Regions from separate parts of the Homo sapiens genome. Here region 1 is linked to region 2. Evidence: fine-mapped expression QTL. Tissue or cell type: whole blood. Region 2 holds a variant in brackets; the other region holds the start of a gene. All regions are shown on one strand. Distances are between the middles of the regions.

Evidence for each region. PIP is the estimated chance that this variant, and not a neighbour inherited with it, causes the effect.
Region 1: TM2D3 starts here. The variant in region 2 is fine-mapped to the expression of TM2D3 in whole blood (INTERVAL, PIP above 0.99).

Annotation. Positions count from the first base shown.
Region 1 is chr15:101,647,843-101,655,949 of GRCh38, reverse strand. It overlaps TM2D3 (TM2 domain containing 3), which reads left to right and starts at 3,569. Exons shown (of 6, transcript NM_078474.3): 1 at 3,569-3,679; 2 at 4,177-4,254; 3 at 5,789-5,946. The coding sequence starts at 3,589. It overlaps TARS3 (threonyl-tRNA synthetase 3), which reads left to right. Exons shown (of 19, transcript NM_152334.3): 19 at 1,220-2,354. The coding sequence ends at 1,368. It also overlaps the pseudogene RNU6-807P. RefSeq lists enhancers at 2,275-3,165, 3,272-3,331 and silencers at 2,992-3,181, 3,422-3,981.
Region 2 is chr15:101,882,259-101,890,365 of GRCh38, reverse strand. It overlaps the pseudogene WBP1LP5. Among named protein-coding and RNA genes, the nearest start is that of FAM138E, 69 kb to the left of the region's middle. The variant G/A (reference allele first, on the strand shown) is at 3,814.

The DNA.
Region 1 (8,107 bases), 230 kb after region 2:
TAGAGAGAACAAACTTTTTACCCACATTCCAGAAAGTTCTGGCTGGCTCGCATGGGTCTGGTGTCCACTCCTTGGCTCATCAGGTATGCCAGGTGGAGTCAGCGTGAGCCTGTAAGAGCTCCCCGCTCTCATCTGCACCCTAGTGCCAGGTGGGGTCAGTGTGAGCCTGTAAGAGCTCCCCACTCTCATCTGCACCCTAGTGCCAGGTGGGGTCAGTGTGAGCCTGTAAGAGCTCCCCGCTCTCATTTGCACCCTAGTGCCAGGTGGAGTCACTGTGAGTCTGTAAGAGCTCCCCGCTCTCATTTGCGCCCTAGTGCCAGGTGGAGTCACTGTGAGCCTGTAAGAGCTCCCCGCTCTCATTTGCGCCCTAGTGCCAGGTGGAGTCACTGTGAGTCTGTAAGAGCTCCCCGCTCTCATTTGCGCCCTAGTGCCAGGTGGGGTCAGTGTGAGCCTGTAAGAGCTCCCCGCTCTCATTTGCGCCCTAGTGCCAGGTGGAGTCACTGTGAGCCTGTAAGAGCTCCCCGCTCTCATTTGCGCCCTAGTGCCAGGTGGAGTCACTGTGAGCCTGTAAGAGCTCCCCCCTCTCATTTGCACCCTAGTGCCAGGTGGGGTCAGTGTGAGCCTGTAAGAGCTCCCCCCTCTCATCTGCGCCCTAGTGCCAGGTGGAGTCACTGTGAGCCTGTAAGAGCTCCCCCCTCTCATTTGCACCCTAGTGCCAGGTGGGGTCAGTGTGAGCCTGTAAGAGCTCCCCGCTCTCATTTGCGCCCTAGTGCCAGGTGGAGTCAGTGTGAGCCTGTAAGAGCTCCCCGCTCTCATTTGCACCCTAGTGCCAGGTGGGGTCAGTGTGAGCCTGTAAGAGCTCCCCGCTCTCATTTGCGCCCTAGTGCCAGGTGGGGTCACTGTGAGCCTGTAAGAGCTCCCCGCTCTCATTTGCGCCCTAGTGCCAGGTGCAGTCAGTGTGAGTCTGTAAGAGCTCCCCCCTCTCATCTGCACCCCAGGACCACAAGAGCTGTTCTCTCAGGTGGACAATAGAGAGATGGGATCAGAAGTCATTGCTTCCCTCAAGAAACTTAACTATCAGAGGATGAACCAAATGCTCATTAGATGATATTTAATATTAGTGAAGAAAAACTTGATAAAAACATGTCATGGGACTGCTGACTTAATGTTTGGTAAATTGCTGATTTAAAATACATTTCTTTACCTTTCTTTTCTGCAGTGGTTGGAGAAAAGGAAAAGATAGATAATGCTGTAAACGTGCGAACAAGAGACAACAAAATTCATGGAGAGATTTTAGTAACTTCTGCCATTGATAAACTGAAGAATCTCAGGAAGACACGGACACTCAATGCTGAGGAGGCCTTTTGAAGTCCTTCCCTGATATTTGCTTCTGTGTAACTTTGTTTTGACCCTTAAAAATGTATTTTTCTTAACATGTTAGTACTTCTACGACTTTGGAGCCACTGATGGGTCCACTCATGGCCTCAGCTGAGAAAGGAGACGATGAACGTGTAGCTGACATGCACGAAGTTTAATTTACTCATGTCCACGGGGGACGTTTAGAGGGCACGTGGGAAATTTTCCAGCAATCAATGCCTTGAGAAACTTAAATGGGGAAATATTATTCATCGAGAAAGTGAAACAAAACACTAGGAAATGATTATGAAATGTTAGTGATTTTCAAAAGATGGGCTTCAAATAAAAGTCTGCAGAGTTTTTTTTAAATAGGAGGGAAAATCTTATTTTCTAATATGTCTCAGGTATTTTTATGACTTCTACTAAAATTCACACTGAAACTTTATCTTCTAAACTGGAATCATTACTTAATTTTAACTAACCAACAACCACAAAAGCAGCAGCTACTGCTAAATATTGGATTACTGACAAAGGAATTCAGTTTTGTGGAATCTGGTGTTTGCACTATAGGTTAAGAGTTGCCATTTAAATGTTTCTTATTCATAATTAGGTTTTGTTCCGCTTTAGAAAAAAATAAATTCCCAAATGAATTGCATCAGTGTTTCCAGCGTTTCAGCTGTGGGCTTCTACCACCACTAAGCCGCTCACCTAGAGTTGTTACTTTTTTGATGGGATGACATTCCATGGATTTATGTACTGAAATGGATTTCAGATTTTAAAGAGAGGAATGCTCTACGTGCTCAGAACTGAATTAAAATGGCATTATGTCAATAGAGAATTCAGCTACCAAACAAGAAGTATTGTTTATTTTGCGATATGCTGTGAAATTCAAAAGAAATGTAAGAAATAATCTCTTTTCAATATACTGATCATTTAGTTAACTTCCTGAGGGATGTGAACAGTGAAACAGTTGGCAAACAAAACAATATATATCAGGCTTGTGTAGTAGTATAAGGTGCAGATTGTGTGATATGATTTTTATTATTTATTTTTTGAGACGGAGTCTCGCTCTGTCACCCAGGCTGGAGTGCAGTGGCGCGATCTCGGCTCACTACAACCTCCGCTTCCCGGGTTTAGGCGATTCTCCTGCCTCAGCTTCCCCAGTAGCTGGGACCACAGGCGCGTGCCTCCACGCCTGGCTAATTTTTTTGTATTTTTAGTAGAGACAGGGTTTCACCGTGTTGTTAGCCAGGATGGTTTCGATTTCCTAACCTCGTGATCCGCCCGCCTGGGCCTCCCAAAGTGCTGGGATTACAGACGTGATTCACCGCCCCCGGCCGTGATACGATTTTTAAAGCTAACATTCAGGGCTTATGTGCCGGCACTTTTCCATGTATTTTTTAAAAAGTCATTCAGCAAACATGCACGTGAGGGGGTGGTAGTCAGAAGACCGCGGAATGAACGATCCCGAAGCACGTGGGTGGGAGGAGAGCACCTGTCACCAGCGCTTTCTCCCAGGTGTGCTGTGACAGAAACCGGCAAGGGTCTCCGCAAGCTGGGGCCTGAGCGCGGCTCCCCAGACGGCCGCGACCTTCCCCAGGCAGGGCTGGGCTCTGGACCCTCCCCTCACTTCCCAGCGCCTCGGGCCATCCTGCTTCTCCAGGCCTGAGAGGAACTTTCTGGAAGTGCTGCGTATCTTCAAGAGGCCGGCCAGAAGTGAAAGCCGCGGCAGGCCTGAGCGCCGGCCCCAGGGGAGGGGTCCCTCGGGCCCTCGTCGTCCCGGGGCCGCTTCCCCGACTGTAAATAAGTGTCTTTAGGATGAAACGCCACGCGATAGTGTCCTCGGAACCTTCGCACGAGATCCAGCACACAACATCCGACCACACACTGGGGCGGCCAGCCTCCCGCGTTCGCCCGCCTCTGCTCTTGGTTGCTTCGGGCGCGCATTTCGGTCCACGGATGACCTTTAACAGGTCTCCTGCAGTGGAACCAGGGGTGAGGGCCTCGTCCAAGGGCGTGAGGGGCGCGTGGAAATGGAACAACCTCCCAGGCTCGCATCCTCCTCGGGGACCTCCCAGAAGGCTCAACCGGAAGAAAACCCGCGACCCGCGCGAGGACAGCGAAAGCGCAAACGCCGGCCGCCAGGAGTCGCAGCGCGCCTGCGTCCAGTTCACGCTCCGGCTCCCAGGCGCGCCCCGCCCCCCGGCCCGGAAGTGCGCAGGCGCTGGCAAGATGGCGGGAGGGGTGCTCCCGCTGAGGGGCCTCCGCGCCTTGTGTCGCGTGCTGCTCTTCCTCTCGCAGTTCTGCATTCTGTCGGGCGGTGGTGAGTCAAAGGCTGGGTTCAGCGCCGGGTGGGGCTGAGTGGCAGCAGGGCCCCGGGAGCTGCGAGGAGGCCGGGCCCACGGGCGGACGCTGACGCGGGGAGGAGGCCGAGTGCCGGGCTCCGGGCCGCTTGTCGCTGCATCTGGAGTCTGGCGCCCTGGCCGCCCGGCCCGAGGCCGCCCCTCCGCTCCGGCGACACCGAGCCCGCCATCGCGGCTGCGGAGCCCTGGCACGGAGATGGAGCGCTTGGGGGCTGGGCCGGGGAGGCGGAACTGGAGCGCGATGTCATCCTTCGGTCCCTCGTTGCCGGCTGACCTGAACTGATGTCTACTCTGTTGACGTTTCGTCCCTAAGCTTTGTGTTTTCTGGCTGACCAGCCGTGAGGTTTTCATGAGCAGCTTATTGGCCTGGTGTAGACCCGCCGTGTTAACCACACAAAATAAGGTTTTCTTGTCCCGGGATAACGTGTTTCTCTAATTGTACGATCCTTAAATTTAGAGCAATCGCAGGCGCTGGCTCAGTCAATAAAGGATCCGGGCCCAACACGCACATTCACAGTAGTTCCCAGGGCAGCAGGTACTAGACGTTTTCTATTCTAGTAAATACATGTAGTTATCTCTAGTAGTTTCTCTTTGTTTTTATAAAAATTCCCTTTAGTATACGAAGTCACTTTCCATTTTTGAATATTTATTGTATTTTAGATTATGTGAATTAAGGGTAGATACACAGCCATTTTCAGTAGATAGTCTTCGTATTTATACCTTTTGACGTTTCTGCCTCCTCTCTTTTTCCAATCCCACGCTCATTTGTCACCTTATTTCTATTATTTTTCCACTTCATCCATCAAAATAACCTTCAGTCCGTGCTTCTTTCCCTTCAGCAAATTTCCTCTACTGCTAAAACCCTGTTCCTGATGTTGGAATATTAAAGGCTCCCTCAGGACTGTGGAAATGGAAGGATTACAGCGGGACTGATGGAGACTTGAAATCTAGATCTGGTTTTGCTACTGGGATCTTGAACAAATTATTTATCCTCTTTGGACCTTGGTCCTCATCTTTAAAGCGGTGGGGTTGGTCTGACGACCTAAAGTCATTTCTGCTTTGTGATTCTAAGTGTCCACCTTCCAGCCACATAGTCACGGGATCAAAAAGAGTATTTTGTAGAATTGTTCCTTAATACAGTGAGTAAAGTAGGACCAGTTTTAAACAAGCATTAGTGTGTTTTGCTAGGTGGAGGCTCTGACTATAATTTCATCACTTTAAAGTGACATTACTTCAGTGAATTGAAACTGGCAGAGATATTTTACTGATTCTTATTTGGATGTAAAAAACAGCAGTGCACTTGAATTTTAAACTCAGATTACTTTTTAGAGAAAGCACAAGAGTTCTTAACTCTTGCAGGCTTTTGAAAGCCCTTCTTTTCAGGAATACTTGCAATTTTGATCCTTTCAGTTGGTAAAAATACATTGCACACTCATTAGGTTGGTTGGAAATAAGTTGCAGCTTACTGAAGATGTTATTAAAGTAGAGAACTGTTTTGAACTTTGGTAGCGTAAAACTGTAAATATTATATTAGCAAATGTGGCTTATCGAAGTACCAGTGTGAAATAATGACATTTTAAAGTTGATGCCCTGAGGATGTCAGTGGCTTCATTTCTGAATTAGTGAATTCAGATGAAAAGAACACGGGATTGGAAATGGAGAGATTTGGGTTCTAGTTCCAGTTTTGCCACAGACTTCCTCTGTGATTTTGCAAAACCCTACTGTAAGTTTTTTTTCAACTTACAAAATGATAGTCTTTTTTTTAAGCCCTTAATGTATACCCAGAATTTTCTATACATTATTTGTATATGAGCACCTTTAGTTTTCACGGCCACGTGGGAGGCAGGAATGAAGTAATGTTTTACAAGTGTGGTGCTCACCAGGTCCCACAGCTGGCCGTGGGCAGAATTCTGCTTTAATTGCAGGTGTCTCTGACTCCAGTCCCATGCTTCTTCCCTTCCAGTGCAGTGTCTACTTGCTAATGATCACGTCTCTTAACCTTAGAAGATTGTTCTCTGTTATTCGAATCAGTATTATAGGAGAATAAGCTTCTCTCTTGCCTCTCACAGAAAGTACTGAAATCCCACCTTATGTGATGAAGTGTCCGAGCAATGGTTTGTGTAGCAGGCTTCCTGCAGACTGTATAGACTGCACAACAAATTTCTCCTGTACCTATGGGAAGCCTGTCACTTTTGACTGTGCAGTGAAACCATCTGTTACCTGTGTTGTAAGTACTGCAGCTTACTTATTCTAAATAAATTCATTGTAAACTTTAAGTTAGAAGAACAATTCAGACTTGATTATTGGGAAGAAATTCTGAAGAATTTTTATATTCTTTTATGATTTCCCTTTTGAGTATGTAAGCAGAAATAAATTAAAAAACCCAATAGACCTTTCCATATCAGCTCACTACTGTTTTAGTTATAATGATAACTGTCAAGCCAGTTGATGTCTGCTGGAAATGCACTTGACAGAAATGTTGCTTTGTAGGACTGGAGAAGATCTCAGTCTACTAGCATATCTGAAGCAAGTCTAATTCGTTCAGATGGATTCTGTGTTCTCAATAGTGACAGCTAGTGTACAGAGGGGGTGGCAGTGTCTTTCTGCCATAGATGAGCTTTTGAAGGGCCAGTGCTTATCTGTGGTGAGAAGATGGATTCAGTAAATGCCGGAATGCCTGGTAGCTCTCTAGAACAAAATTAAGTGGAACGCCTGTCTTATCCAGAATAAATTCCAGATAGTCCAAAGATGTAATGTGAAAAATGAAACCCTGAAGTACCACAGAAAACACCAGATAGTTGCTGTTATAATCCCAAAATGGAGAATATTTTTCTAAGTATGAAATAAAGTTTAGAAGCCATAAAATAAAGAATTGATACATTTGACTCCTAAAAATTGGAGATTTCTGCATGACCTAAAAAAAAAAGCATAAAGGCAAAAGACATGGCAAACTAGGAAAAAGCGTTTCTAGAATATGTGACAAATAATACAGTAATATCAGTAATATATAAACACTTCCTAAAACCCACACGGAAAAGATGACAGTCTTGTAGAAAAACAGTGTTAGGACATGAGCAGATGGTTCATAGGAAAGGAAATACAAATAGATATATAACATGAAAAACATATAAGTTTTCTCATAGTATTTAATTAATACATTTTTAACCCTTAGATTGGCAATTTTTTTTTAATTTGATTAACTCTGAGTTTGTGAGAGTATAAGGGTCAGATGCTCATATCTTATTAATAGGTAATCAAATTGATCAACCTCTTGTAGGCGATTTGCCATATCTGTTAAACTTACACATGCACACAATCGTTGAGCTCGTAGTTGTACATGTAGGAATTTATGTTATAGATATCATTATACATGGATGCAGATAAGTGTGCTTATTTTTTAGCTGCATTGCTCATTAAAGCAAAAGATTCAAAAGAAGTGAAATGTCTAAGAACTGCTTAATTTATGGTACACGTGTAATAGAATAAACACCTTGTAGCCATTAAAAAGAACTAGGCAGCTCTAGAGGTAATGTACTGATAGATGTCCAAAATTAAGTGAAAGTATTGGGGAACATTAAATGTAGGTGACATAAATGTGCCTATGTGTAGAATCAGCTCTCTCTGGAAGCACAGAGCGTACTTGGCCTGGGGAGGGCAGGGGCTCCCGGCGGCTGGGCCAGACGAGGCCGGCTCACTTCTCACTCTCCTGTTGTGTCTTGACATGTGTTCCATGTACATGTGTCACCTACTTTTTAAAAAACCATTAAAAAAAGTGTGTTTTAAGCACATCACTGAAAATAGGCAGATGTAAACGTATTATTTTGCAGATCCAACTGTTTGCCTAAATCAAGTGATGCCTTACCCATATTTGAATGTTTTCCATAAAAAGTGGTTTTTGCATTGATAAGAAAATGAATAGTACTTGCTTCATCAGCGCATATGCCAAAGTTGGAACCATACAGAGAGAATTAGGATGGCTCTTCTGCAAAAATGACATGCAAATTTGTGAAATGTTAAAAAAAATAACAAACATGGGCCGGGCGTGGTGGCCTACACCTGTAATCCCAGCACTTTGGCAGGCCGAGGCAGGTGAATCACCTGAGGTCAGAGGTTGAGACCAGCCTGGCCAACATGGTGAAACCCCATCTGTACTAAAAATACAAAAATTAGCTGGGCGTGGTGGGGTGCGTCTCTAATCCCAGCTACTCAGGAGGCTGAGGCAGGAGAATCGCTTGAACCTGGGAGGCGGAGGTTGAAGTGAGCCGAGATTGCACCACCGCATTCCAGCCTGGGCGACAGAGCGAGACTCCATCTCAAAAAAAGAAAAAAAAATAATGTGTGTATGTGTATATATATGTATACATATATATACATGATGCTTCCAGAGA
Region 2 (8,107 bases):
GAAAGAAAATAGAACAGATCAATGAAACTAAGAATTTGTTCTTTGAAAAGATAAACAAAACTGACAAACCATTAGCTAGACTAGAAAAACGAGAGAATACTCAAAGCAATAAAATCAGAAATGAAAGAGGAAATATTGCAACTAATACCACAGAAATACAGAGGATCATAAGAGGCCACTATAAACAATTACAAGCCAACAAATTGGATAACCTAGAAAAAGCAGATAAATTTCTAGAAAAATGCAACTTACCTAGAGAAAGTCAAGAAGAAAGATAAAATCTGAACAGAACAATACTGAGTATGGAGAGTATATCAATAATAAAACATCTCCCATCAAAGAACATCCCAGGACCAGAAAACTTCATTGCTGAATTCTAACATTTTAAAAAATAATAATACAATCCTTCTGAAATTCTTCCAAAAACTTGAAGGAGAAAGAGTATTTCCAAACTCATTTTAAAAGATCAGCATTATTGTTTTTTTTTTTAAAGTGATGTTCCCCTTCCTGTGTCCATGTGTTCTCATTGTCCAATTCCCACCTATGAGTGAGAACATGTGGTGTTTGGTTTTTTGTCGTTGCAATAGTTTGCTGAGAATGATGGTTTCCAGCTTCATCCATGTCCCTACAAAGGACATGAACTCATCCTTTTTTATGGCTGCATAGTATTCCATGGTGTATATGTGCCACATTTTCTTAATCCAGTCTATCATTGTTGGACATTTGGATTGGTTCCAAGTCTTTGCTATTGTGAACAGTGCCACAATAAACATATGTGTGCATGTGTCTTTATAGCAGCATGATTTGTAATCCTTTGGGTATATACCCAGTAATGGGATGGCTGGGTCAAATGGTATTTCTAGTTCTAGATCCTTGAGGAATCGCCACACTGTCTTCCACAATGGTTGAACTAGTTTACAGTCCCACCAACAGTGTAAAAATGTTCCTATTTCTCCACATCCTCTCCAGCACCTGTTGTTTCCTGACTTTTTAATGATGGCCATTCTAACTGGTGTTAGATGATATCTCATTGTGGTTTTGATTTGCATTTCTCTGATGGCCAGTGATGATGAGCATTTCTTCATGCGTCTGTTGGCTGCATAAATGTCTTCTTTTGAGAAGTGTCTGTTCATATCCTTTGCCCACTTTTTGATGGGGTTGTTTGTTTTTTTCTTGTAAATTTGTTTGAATTCATTGTAGATTCTGGATATTAGCACTGGGGCCTGTTGTGGGGTGGGGGGAGGGGGGAGGGATAGCATTAGGAGATATACCTAATGTTAAATGATGAGTTAATGGGAGCAGCACACCAGCATGGCACATGTATACATATGTAACTAACCTGCACGTTGTGCACATGTACCCTAAAACTTGAAGTATAATAAAAAAACAAAAACGAAAAAATAAAAACAAAAATAAAAAGGCAAACAAGGACACTATAAGAAAAGTATGGGTCAACCAATATCCCTGATGAACATAGATACAAAAGTCCTCAAAAAAAAGTGCTAGCAAACAGAATTTAGCAACACATTAGGAGAACATTTACCATGATAAAGTGGATTTATCCTCCAGATGGTTCAGCATACACAAATCAAATGTGATAAACCACATTAACAGAATGAAGGATAAAAAAAATAGCTATCTCTATATATGCAGAAAAAGCATTTGACTAAATTCAAAATCCTCTCATGACAAAATCTCTCAACAAATTGGGCGTAGAAGGCATGTACCTTAACACAAAACAGGACATATATAACAAGCTCACAGCTCACATCATACCCAACAATGAAAAAGTGAAATCTTTTCTGCTAAGATCAAGAACAAGACAAGGATATTTATTCTCACTACTTCTATTCAACTTATTTCTGGAAGTCCTAGCCAGAGCAATTAAGCCAAATAAAGAAATAAAAGATATTCAAATTGAAAAGGAAGAAGTAAAATTGTCTCTGTTTGATGACATATTATATATAGGAAACCCTAAAAACTCCACCAAAAAGCTATTAGAAATGATAAATGAATTCAATAAAATTGCAGAATTCAAAATCAATGTATAAAACTCAGTAGTTTCTTTACACTGACAACAAACTATATGACAAAAATAAAGAAATCAATCTCATTCACGGTAGCATCAAAAAAACCGTATTTTTTTTTGTTTAGGAGCACATTTAGGATTGTACTTAGGAGTACATTTAACCAAGGAGGTGAAAGATCTGTATTCTGAACACTATAAAACATTGATGAAAAAATTGTAGATGACATGAATACATGGAAAGATATTTTATGTTCATGGGTAGGAAGAATTAATATTCTTAAAATGTCCTTACTGCCCAAAGTGATTTATAGGTTTAATGCAATATTTATCAAAATTTCAATGTCATTCTTCACAGAAATAGAAAAAACAATTTGAAAATTTATATGGAACCACAAAGGACCCTGAATAACTAAAGGACTCTTGAGCAATAAGAACAAAGCTGAAGGCCTCACAATCTGACTTCAAAACATATTACAGGAAAAGAACAAAAGAAGGAAGAAGAGGGTAGAGGAGAAGTGCAGCAAGGGTGGAGGGAGGTGCCCGCGCTGGGTCGGAGGAGCAGGAGGAGTATGGAGGGAAGACTCCTGGGTGGCATGAAGCTCTTGCACCTCTAGGCACTGCCCAGCCCTGTGTCAGCCAGGGCTGAACCCCCACAGGATAAGGAAGCCTGTGTGTGTACCAACAATCAAAGCTACATCTGTGACACAACAGGACACTGCTATGGGCAGTCTCAGTGTTGTAACTACTACTATAAACATTGATGGTTCTGGTTGGCATGGACCATCACCATCATCCTGAGCTGCTGCTGTGTCTGCCACCACAGCCAAGCCAGCCCTCAAGTCTAGCAGTAGCAACATGAAATCAACCTGACTGCCTATCCAGAAGCCCGCAATTACTCAGTGCTACCATTTTATTTCACCAAACTATTTATTACCTTCTTATGAGGAAGTGGTGAACTAATCTTCACCTGTTTCCCTCCCTGTCTGTCCATTGTAGATGAGCTCTGAGCCGTTTTCCTGTGAAGATTCTTTGAATTGTGGCCATTCTATTCACATGAACTCTCACATCTGGAGCACAGATGGCCCTCTCAAGGTAATTTATTGTATGCATTGACTGTTTACCAAACAAATGTCTTACTATGTACTCAGGTATATTCAGCAGCATTGTCGACTGCAGTCCCCAGTGCTTGCCAGAAGATACTGTATTCAAAGTAGAAGTTTCACAGTGATGAGCAATCACTGCAATTTTCCCATTGCTCCATGGACTCTCGGAGGCCGGTGTTCTGTTCCCTGTAAATAGAAATGTACTCTGAACCTTTCTGCCTCCCTCAGCTGTTCCTAGTCCTTGGTATCAGCCCCTGGAGATGTCCACAACCACTTAGGACAAAAGGCAAAAGTGGAATTTCAGACAAAACTTTGATAGGATCTTCAGTGATAAACTTGGACTAACTGTGGCCCAGGTATCAGCACTCCCAAGAATTGCCAGGAGGAAGCTTTGGCAGACACCACAGGTATAGCAAGGCCTATCTCCCTCCGCTGAATCCAACAGGGGCAAGCAAGCTGGCATGTGGCTTGAGGTGACCCGAATATGTCAGCACCCCTCAGATGTCCTTCTTTGCACTTTTAAAAAAAATCTCAGAATTTGCTGGCAACATGGCCAAATAGGAACAGCTCCAGTCTGCAGCTCCCAGTGAGATCAATGCAGAATGCAGGTGATTTCTGCATTTCCAACTGAGGTACCTGGTTCATCTCACTGGGACTGGTTGGACAGTGGGTGCAGCCCAC[G/A]GAGGGTGAGCCAAAGCAGAATGGGGCTTCGCCTCACCCGGGAAGTGCAAGGGGTTGGGGGAATTCCCTCCCCTAGCCAAGGGAAGCCCCGAGGGACTGTACCATGAGGAACGGTGCACTCCACCCAGAAACTATGCTTTTCTCACGGTCTTCACAATCCACAGACCAGGAGATTCCCTCCAGTGCCTCTGCCACCAAGGCCCTAGGTTTCAAGCAGAAAACTAGGCAGCTGTTTGGGCAGACACCGAGCTAGCTGCAGGAGTTTTTTTTTTTTCATGCCGCAGTGGCAACTGGAATGCCAACAAGACAGAACCATTCTCTCTCCTGGAAAGGGGGCTGAAGCCAGGGAGCCAAGTGGTCTGGCTCGGCGGGTCCCACCCCTACAGAGCCCAGAAGCTAAGATCCACTGGCTTGAAATTCTTGCACAGCAGTCTGAGGTTGACCTAGGACACTCGAGCTTGGTGGGGGGAGGGGCTTCCACATTGCCAAGGCTTGAGTAGGCAGTTTTACCCCCACAGTGTAAACAAAGCCACCAGAAAGTTTGAACTGGGTGGAGCCCACCACAACTCAGCAAGGCCACAGCAGCCAGACTGCCTCTCTAGATTTCTCCTCTCTGGGCAAGGCATCTCTGAAAAAAGGGCAGCAGCCCCAGTCAGAGACCTATAGATAAAACCCCCATCTCCCCGGAACAGAGCACCTAGGGGAAAGGGCGCCTGTGGGCACAGCTTCAGCAGACTTTGAGCATCCTTGAAAAGCCTGATGGCTCTGAAGAGAGCAGCAGATCTCCCAGCACAGCATTCGAGCTCTGATAAGGGTCAGACTGCCTCCTCAAGTGGGTCCCTGACCCCGTGTATCCTGACTGGGAGACACCTCCCAGTAGGTGCCAACAGGCACCTCATACAGGAGAGCTCTGGCTGGCATCTGGTGGGTGCCCCTCTGGGACAAAACTTCCAGAGGAAGAAACAGGCAGCAATCTTTGCTGTTCTCCAGCCTCCGCTGGTGATACCCAGGCAAACAGGGTCTAGAGTAGACCTACGGCAAACCCCAACAGACCTGCAGCAGAGGGGCCTGACTGTTAGAAGGAAAACTAACAAACAAAAAGGAATAGCATCAACATCAACAAAAAGGACAGCCACTCAGTGACCCCATCAGAAGGTCACCAACATCAGAAACCACAGGTAGATAAATCCACGAAGATGGAGAGAAACCAGAGCAAAAAGGCTGAAAATTCCGAAAACCAGAACGCCTCTTCTCCTCCAAAGGATCACAACTCCTCACCAGCAAGGGAACAAAAGAAAACTGGATGGAGAATGAGTTTGACGAATTAAGAGAAGTAGGTTTCAGAAGGTAGGTAATAACAAACTCCTCCAAGCTAAAGGAGCATGTCCTAACCCAATGTAAGGAAGCTAAGGACCTGGAAAAAAGGCTAGACCAATTGCTAACTAGAATAACCAGTTTAGAGAAGAACATAAATGACCTGATGGAGCTGAAAAACACGCCATGAGAACTTCATGCAGCATGCACAAGGATGAAGCACTGATTCGATCAAGCGGAAGAAAAGATATCAGAGATTGAATATCAGCTTAATGAAATAAATCAAGAAGACAAGATTAGAGAAAAAAGAATGAAAAGAAATGAACAAAGCCTCCAAGAAATATGGGACTATGTGAAACGACCAAATCTACGTTTGATTGCTGTACCTGAAAGTGTTGGGGAGAATGGAACCAAGTTAGAAAACACTCTTCAGGATATTATCCAGGAGAACTTCCCTAACCTAGCAAGGCAGGCCAATATTCAAATTCAGAAATACGAAGAACATCACAAAGACACTCCTCAAGAAAAGCAACCCCAAGACACAAAGTCGTCAGATTGAGCAAGGTTGAAATGAAGGAAAAAATGTTAAGGGCAGCCAGAGAGAAAGGTCAGGTTACCCACAAAGGGAAGCCCATCAGACTAACAGCAGATCTATCAGCAGAAACTCTACAAGCCAGAAGAGAATGGGGGCCAATATTCAACATTCTTAAAGAAAAGAATTTTCCACCCAGGATTTCATATCCAGCCAAACTAAGCTTCATAAGTGAAGGAGAAATAAAATCCTTTACAGACAAGCAAATGCTGACAGATTTTGTCACCACCAGGCCTGCCTTAAAGGAGCTCCTGAAGGAAGCACTAAACATGGAAAGGAACAACTGGTATCAGCCACTGCACAAACATACCAAATCGTAAAGACCATTGACACTATGAAGAAACTGCATTAACTAACAGCAAAATAACCAGCTAGCATCATAATGACAGGATCAAATTCACACATAACAATATCAACCTTAAATGTAAATGGGCTAAATGCTCCAATTAAAAAACACAGACTGGCAAATTGGCTAAAGAGTCAAGACCCATCAGTGTTCTGTATTCAGGAGACCCATCTCACGTGCACAGACACAAATAGGCTCAAAATAAAGGGATGGAGGAATACTTACCAAGCAAATGGAAGGCAAAAAAAAGCAGGGGTTGTAACCCTAGTCTCTGATAAAACAGACTTTAAACCAACAAAGATCAAAAGAGACAAATAAGGGCATTGCATAATGGAAAAGGATCAATGCAACAAGAAGAGCTAATTATCCTAAATATATATGCACCCAATACAGGAGCACCCAGATGCATAAAGTAAGCTCTTAGAGACTTAAAAAGAGACTTAGACCCTCACACAATAATAGTGGGAGACTTTAACATCCCACTGTCAATACTAGACAGATCAACGAAACAGAAAGTTAACAAGGATATCCAGGACTTGAACTCAGCTCTAGACCAAGTGGATCCAATAGACATCTACAGAACTCTCCACCCCAAATCAACAGAATATACATTCTTCTCAGCATCACATTGCACTTATTCTAAAATTGACCACATATTTGGAAGTAAAACACTCCTCAGCAAATGCAAAAAAAAAAATGAGAATTATAACAGTCTCTCAGATCGCAGTGCAATTAAATTAGAACTCAGGATTAAGAAACTGACTCAAACCCACACAACTACATGTAAACTGAACAACCTGCTCCTGAACAACTACTGGGTAAATAAAGATATTAAGGCAGAAATAAATAAGTTATTTGAAACCAATGAGAACAAAGACATAACATACCAGAATCTCTGGTACACAATTATAGCAGTGTGTAGAGGGAAATTTATAGCACTAAATGCCCACAAGAGAAAGCAGGAAAGATCTAAAATTGACACCCTAACATCTCAATTAAAAGAACTCAAGAGGCAGGAGCATACAAAAAGCTAGCAGAAGACAATAAATAACTAAGATCAGAGCAGAACTGAAGGAGATAGAAACACAAAAAAACCTTCAAAAAAAATCAATGAATCCAGGAGCTGGTTTTTGAAAAGATCAATAAAATAAACAGACCACTAGCCAGACTCATAAAGAAGAAAAGAGAGAAGAATCAAACAGATGCAATAAAAAATGATAAAGGAGATACCACCACTGATCCCACAGAAATACAAACTACTATCAGAGAATACTATAAACACCTCTACACAAACTAGAAAATCTAGAAGAAATGGACAAATTCCTGGACACATACACCCTCCCAAGGCTAAACCATGAAGAAGTTGAATCCCTGAATAGACCAATAACAAGGTCTGAAATTGTGGCAGTAATTAATAGCCTACCAACCAAAAAACAGTCCAGGACCAGATGGATTCACAGCTGAACTCTACCAGAGGTACAAAGAGGAACTGGTACCATTCCTTCTGAAACTATTCCAAACAACAGAAAAAGAGGGAATCCTCCCTAACTCATTTTATGAGGCCAGAATCATTCTGGTACCAAAATTTGGCAGAGACACAACAAAAAAAAGAAAATTTCAAGCCAATATCCCTGATGAACATCGATGCAAAAATCCTCAATAAAATACTGGCAAACCAAATCCAGCAGCACATCAAAAGCTTGTCCATCACAATCAAATCGGCTTCATCCCTGGGATGCAAGGCTAGTTCAACATACGCAAATCAATAAACATAATTCATCATATAAATAGAACCAATGGCAAAAACCACATGCTTCTCTCAATAGATGCAGAAAAGGCCTTCGACAAAATTCAACAGCCCTTCATGCTAAAAACTCTCAATAAACTAGGTACTGATGGAACGTATCTCAAAATAATAAGACCTATTTATGAAAAACCCACAGCCAATACTGAATGGTGAAACACTGGAAGCATTCCCTTTGAAAACCAGCACAAGACAAGGATGCCCTATCTCACCACTCCTATTCAATGTAGTATTGGAA